Homo sapiens: one gene and its partner. The gene in region 2 interacts genetically with the main gene of each other region. Each region holds a gene or a part of one and is shown on either strand. Other genes may lie near its edges.

The links.
Region 1: changes in UTP4 (region 2) and SRFBP1 together harm fitness more than expected from each alone (negative genetic interaction), as found in Homo sapiens cells (one large-scale study listed by BioGRID).

Annotation. Positions count from the first base shown.
Region 1 is NC_000005.10:122,013,975-122,017,474, reverse strand, and holds part of SRFBP1 (serum response factor-binding protein 1), read right to left. Parts: intron 1-3,500. UniProt on the Homo sapiens protein: May be involved in regulating transcriptional activation of cardiac genes during the aging process. May play a role in biosynthesis and/or processing of SLC2A4 in adipose cells.
Region 2 is NC_000016.10:69,163,335-69,166,806, reverse strand, and holds part of UTP4 (U3 small nucleolar RNA-associated protein 4 homolog), read right to left. Parts: intron 1,467-3,472; coding exon 1,281-1,466; intron 1-1,280. UniProt on the Homo sapiens protein: Ribosome biogenesis factor. Involved in nucleolar processing of pre-18S ribosomal RNA. Part of the small subunit (SSU) processome, first precursor of the small eukaryotic ribosomal subunit.

The DNA of each region.
Region 1 (3,500 bases), on a different chromosome or scaffold from region 2:
TAAGACTGGTTTCCTTATAAGGAGAAGAATATTTTGATATAGGGGCACAGAGAGACACAGTAAAGACTACGTGAACACTAAGGGCAAAGATTGGAGTTATCCTGGCATCAGCCACCAGTAGCTCAAAGACACAGGAAAGTTTCCCCTCTGGAGCTTCCAGAGAAAGTGTGGCCTCACTGACACCTTAATTTCAAGCTTTCACCCTCCTCAACTGTGAGAAAATAAATTTACTTTTTTGTTGTTGTTGTTGGGAGTCTCACTCTGTCACCCAGGCTGGAGTTGCAGTAGCGTGATCTTGGCTTACTGCAACCTCCGCCTCCCGGGTTCAAGCGATTCTCCTGTCTCAGCCTCCCGAGTAGCTGGGACTACAGGCACCCGCCACCACGCTCAGCTGATTTTTGTATTTTTAGTAGAGATGGGGTTTCACCACGTTGGCCAGGCTGGTGTCGAACTCCTGACCTTGTGATCCACCTGCCTCGGCCTCCCAAAGTGCTGGGATTACAGGTGTGAGCCACCGCGCCTGGCCAATTTACATAGTTTTAAACCACTCAATTTGTGATACTTTGTTATGGCAGCCTTAGGAAACTGATACGCATCTATTCTGACTATTAGACACAGCTTCTGTTCAACCTTTTCCAAGAAATGTCGTCTACTCATGGACCATTCATTTAAGTACAGCGCAAAGTGAACCTGTTTCTTCAACCTGCTGCTGAGTTTCCTGATACAATAGAGGAAAGATAGAAAAAAGATAATTTAGGAAGGAAGGTTATTGCTAGTATCCTGAGTCACTTAGTGACAAGCTGAGCTGCTGAAGGCATAGGTCAAACATGCTTGCTTGAGTATTAAAAGCTAGAATATAGAAACTCCAATGAAAAACATGATTTTTCAGGCTAAGAAGACTGAAAACAATATATGAAAATAGTCACATTAGTATATTGGGACCTACAAGATTTCAGATAATAAAACAAGTCACCAAATAATAAACTAAAAAGAAAAGACGCACAGATCACAATGGTTTCAGACTTTAATTCTGGAAGTCAAACTATAGAGCAGCTAATGCTTCTAAAATTATGAAGGAAAAGAATTTCCAACCTAGGGAAGAAGAAAAATACTTCCACACATGCAGTTTATTCAAAAAAATTTACATCCTTGTACATTTCTGTCCAAGAAGCTACTGGCTCCCCTAAAATGAGGAAGGATACAAATAATAAGAATGGCATAGGAGACAAGAAACAGAAGACTTAGGCAGAAGGAACTTCCCAGGATGATGGTGACAGGAGACTTAGGTTTGGGATACTTGGTGTGCTGAATATCTGGAGAGGACATATCAATAGCAGATGGAGAGTTTGGTGTTACACTACAGATAAGACAGAAAACTAACAAAATAAACCTATCACAAACTGTAGAAAACAGAAATATTATGCAGAAAAGTAGTAATAACTCAGTACATGACTCACAGTCACAATAACATAATCAATAAATGTTCACCTAATCTGATTCAAGTATATAAGGAGGATGAAGGGGGGATATCAGGAGATAAGTATATGAGGAGGATGGAGGGGATATATGACTTAGAGCCTGAAGGAGAAAAGAGATCTAAATCTTTACCTACCACAACATAAAGTTAATAGCTAGTGCTTAAAATAAAAAAGCTAATACAGTACATAAACATCTTACTGTAGGGGTAAACTCTATGCGAACTAACTGCAATTGAAGCAGGAAAGGAATAATAGAGTACTGCCACTTTTATAAAAAAATTCTTGTAGAAGTATTTGATTTTCAAAACCAGGAATTGGCAAACTGGCCCATGGGGGCTGTTCCAGCCTGCCGCTGGAACTTTCTTTTATTTAATAAAGTTTTATGGAACAAAGCCAAAGTCATTCATTTATATATTGCCTATGTCTGCACTCACGACACAATGGTAAAGCGAAGTAGTTGTGACAGAAGCTGTGTGTCTTACAAAGGCATTCATTTCAGGTCCTTTACAGAAAAAGCGTGATGCCTGCTCTAAATTACATGCAAGTAGAATCCTTGGTGGGGCAGAACTAAAAAATCAGGAAGAAAGAAAAAACTGTGTAGTAGGCCCGTGATGTTTAAAAATTTAAAATAAAAATACTACCATGACAGACTTCTGTTGCCAAATTAAAGCAACAGATTATAGCAGTAAGTGTGCTTCCAGATTGGTAACACAATTTGAGATTCTGTCTTGGTAGAAACAATTTGGTATCCAATGAAGAAGCAGTATATTTTAATCCTCAGGATTAATTACAGAAGGTTGGTATGTAAAAACAATGACAACAAAAATGACTAATCCTGAGAAGTGTATTCCCCAAGAAACTGCCCTTCAGGTTATAGGAAAAAAGAAGATATTCCAGGAGCAGCTTTTTACCTTTTACTGCTTCTTTCAGCATGTTTACCTCTTATAGTTTCTAAAAATCCACTTCAAAGGTAATTCTCAATATATGAACAGATATAAAACAGACATAAGAAATTCTGGGAATCCTAACCAGATTTTGATTAAAATGTATTCAAACAATTGTTGAAAAACACATCTACTGCTGTTTCCAAATCCCTGTTTTGACAACTTGCTAAAATCTTTGCTGAACTGGGTATTTCTTTCCAGAGTTAGCTATATCTTCCCATCTTAGTTATAACAAGTTTTAGAAGAGCAGTGGTAATACTTGCATGTCTAGTGTGGACTCCGGGGTAAATGCTATTTTGTTAAGAGTCATTTTATCATTAATTTTATTTAGCAAAGCTGTTTCTCTGCCCTGGAAGATATCCCAGACTAACGCTGATTTAGTAATCTCATTTCAGTGAATTTCATTTTTTTCTGAAAGGCTCTAGAAAAAGATTTACAATTCTATAATTATGTACGAATCTCATGAATGAAGATTTTTTTAATTTTTTTTTTCTAATGTCTTCTTCTATAACTGTGTTTTTATGTTGCAATCTTTGTGGAGCACTTATTTGTGGAAGAATATCAAGTTTATATAAAATGAGACTGATTCGAAAAGGGCCACCGTGTTGCATAATCCCCGGAGAGTCACTCACATTGTAGTTGTCAAATTGGAGCTCTGCAGCCATATGTAGCAGCAGTGAGTCAAAGGAGAACATAAAAGTTTGGGTCTACAGGGTATGTAGGTATATAAAATGAGTAGTTATGTAGAATTATGTATACTACAGCTTTAGGTTCTATAATTATATGCAATTTGTGTTTCTGAATAACAGTTAATGCTATCAGCTGATAAAATGTTATAAATATATAAATATTGTTATAAAACTCTAAGATGTGTTTTCTGTTTTATTTTGACAATAATTTTAGACACTTATAGAGTACAAAGTGATATTGACACATGCATACATTGTAGAATCATCAAATCAGAGTAATTACCATATCTACCACTTTAAACATTTATCATTTCTTTGTGATGGGAACATTTTAAATCCTCTCTTTTGGCTATTTTGAAATATATTAACTGTAGTCACCTTGCTGTGCT
Region 2 (3,472 bases):
GCAAAGAGAGCTTGTTAACTCCATGCAGCAAGATCAAAGGGCCCTTCTGCGGCTTCTGGCCTGTCTCATCAGTATCACTTTGTCAGAATGGAACAAACTGGCAAGTGCAGGAGCTCAGCCCACACAGGGTCTGTGCTTTCTAGACTCTCCCCCAACCAGATCACAGACTGGACAAGTGACTGGAGTTCTCCCCAGGCGAAACCTCAACACAAACCACCTGTGCTGATGTCACTGACACCTCGAGGTGGCCTCTGGCCAAAGAAATGATATTTTGTCTCTGACTTCCTGGGAAATAGCTATGCCTACTGTAAGGAAGCGATGAACTTAAAGCCAATGCTTTGGAAAAAATGATCTGGGCTCAATTACAAAGAGGCAAGAGAGTGGGAGGGGCCCTTCCTGTATCACTCATCTTGCAGAAGGCACTTGTCAGCCAGCTCTGCTTCCCACACCCAGAGGTCGCAGGGCCCACGAGATGATTCCAGTGACACATCCCCGTGCACACCTCCTTTAGAGCCATCTGCTGCTTTCCCCCATGTTCCTTCCACCCCCACCTTCACAAACACACCAAAACACCGTGTGATGGTTGTAATCTAAGCCCAAAGTGCAGGACAGGCATGGCCACAATGCTCCTAGGAAACAAAGCACCTGCCCAGAAAAGCCATACAAATTCAGGGTGAATCAAAACAGCAGCTGGCAAAGAGGACAGAATCTAAAACTGAAGAAAATGCTCGTATCCCATGTAAATCACAGCCATGAAGAATTTTCCTAGCTGGGTTTTTCGAAGATGTTAAGACCAGTTCCTCAAGCCTGCAGACAGCGTTTTAGTAGCTTTAGCGAAGGGGCACAGAGGTCAAAACCTCAGCCTGTACCTCCTTTAATGAAACCAGGTTATTCAGATACCCCAGAGTTCAAAGTTGAAAGCAAGTTAGCCAAATCAATGATACTTCCGGATGAGGGTCACCTTCCGAATACTGGCCTAATCACTTTTCTGTGTAAGATTTATGTGCTTACTCGCAAAGTAGACAAATAGTCAAATCAGCAAAAGCCAGTATACAAAGGCCAGCCCCTTCCCCGAGAGCCTCCCGAAGAACTGTGGGAACACAAACCAGGGAATCTGTAAAACAAAAGCCCCTCTCCTCCAAGAAATGTACTAGCTACCTGTATTCTGATTTACTAGCTACCTTTATTCTGAGTCTCTGTCCTCTTACCTTATTGTACTTGTTGCTTTTAGAACTTTAAGATTCAGAAGAAGATTTGGGAGGTAGCAGTGAAGAACTCACCAATGACTTGTCAATGATGCAGAACATGTAGGCATCATGGAGAAGGATGTGCATCGGTCTCTTGGGATGAAAACTGATGTGTGTGATAGGAGTATCCCTTTGGAGCCAAAGGTGGTGAAAGCCCTGCTTCTGGACAGTCCGGCTCCAATCTGTATACTGTTTGTCTGGGATGCTGTACTCAAATACCTGAGGGAGGACATGACATAGAGAAATGCAGGCTGGTACTCAGAAAGACCAGAAGGGCATTCTCATCCCTAACCAGAAAGTATCTATACAAAGCTTCAACTGTATTATATTCATTCTATGCTCTCCCAACACTTTTTTTTTTTTTTGAGATGGAGTCTCACTCTGCCACACAGGCTGGAGTGTAGTGGCGTGATCTCCGCTCACTGCAAGCTCCGCCTCCCCGGTTCAAGCCGTTCTCCTGCCTCAGCCTCCCAAATAGCTGGGACTATAGGCGCCCACGAGTACGCCCGGCTAATTTTTTGTATTTTTAGTAGAGATGGGGTTTCACTGTGTTAGCCAGGATGGTCTTGATCTCCTGACCTCGTGATCTGCCCGCCTCAGCCTCCCAAAGTGCTGGGATTACAGGCGTGAGCCACCGCGCCCTGCCCATCTTTTCAGAGCTATTTTATGCACATAATACATAGCGTTCTGTATCTTGCTTTTGTTGCTCAGTGTTATATCACGGAGACTGACCCACATTAATACACATATATATCGGTCATGCCCATTCTGAAACACAGAATAGTCCACTCATTTTGTCCATGTATCATGATTTACTTATCCACTCTGCTTAATGGACATTAGCTTGTTTCATATCTTTGTCTACTACAAACAAAGCTGTCTCTGTATAAATGTCTTTTTGCACAGCTAGAAGCATATATATCTATATACAGATATATATATACATATATATATATATATATATATATATATAAAGAATGATTAGAACTGAAATTTCTAAGTCAAAGACCATGTGGACTTTAAAATTTTTAAGGTATTGCCAACATGTCCTCCAAAAGGGTTAGGATAATTTACACAATGTGTGAGAGTACTGTTTCCCTATACCTTCAGAACACTGTATATTATCAAGTCTTTGATCTTTGCTAATCTAACAGATATAAAAAACTTCCCATCAGTTTTACTTTCAGAAGCACTTAAGGGACTAAGTGCCAGTAAAAGGTGTCATGGGGGAAATTATCATTATGTGTGACAAAGGCAAAGATGTGTGGCTTCACTACTCTTTCAGTCTTTGGTCAAGGACTCAAATCTATAAAACTGAGAGATTTCACTTTTTGGACAGTGTGTGTGTGCATGTGTGAGTGTAAAAACTGACCATCAGCCGGGCGCGGTGGCTCAAGCCTGTAATCCCAGCACTTTGGGAGGCCGAGGCGGGCGGATCACAAGGTCAGGAGATCGAGACCATCCTGGCTAACATGGTGAAACTCCATCTCTACTAAAAATACAAAAAATTAGCCGGGCATGGTGGCGGGCGCCTGTAGTCCAGCTACTCGGGAGGCTGAGGCAGGAGGATGACATGAACCCGGAAGGCGGAGCTTGCAGTGATCGGAGATCGCACCACTGCACTCCAGCCTGGGCGACAGAGCGAGACTCTGTCTCAAAAAAAAAAAAAAAAAAACAAACTGACCATCAAAGCAGTAAGCATCATTTGCCTAGCACTCTACTTAAATGTGCTTCCTGGATTACATTTAATCTTCCCAACAGCTCAGTGAGGTAGATATTAACATCTCCAATTTTACAGATGAATTATTGATAACTTCCTAATATAATTATTGATAACTTCCTAATATATTCCGCAGCCCAGGTTTTTTTTTTTTTAAAGATCTCCTTATAATCACAATCTCCTTACAAATTGGTATAGAAAAAAGTAGATTAGGTTCTAATTTTGGCTGAGATTAGGTACCTGATCTTATTAGGGCTTGATTTCCTCATCGGCAAGCGTAAAGGTGAATGATACAATCTTTTAGTCACTTTCAACTCTCAAAATCTTATTCCATCCCATATCCAGTTTAATACCCAAGCCCATGTCATCTCTCCTCTAAAACAATCAGGAAAATGAGTACTTCAAAATTCCTCCTCCCTCTTGTGATTCTTTACTCTAGAATCTTAGTGCTTCTCCATTTAAATTGCATCCCATCAAACCAATGCATACTGCTGGCCTATGATGA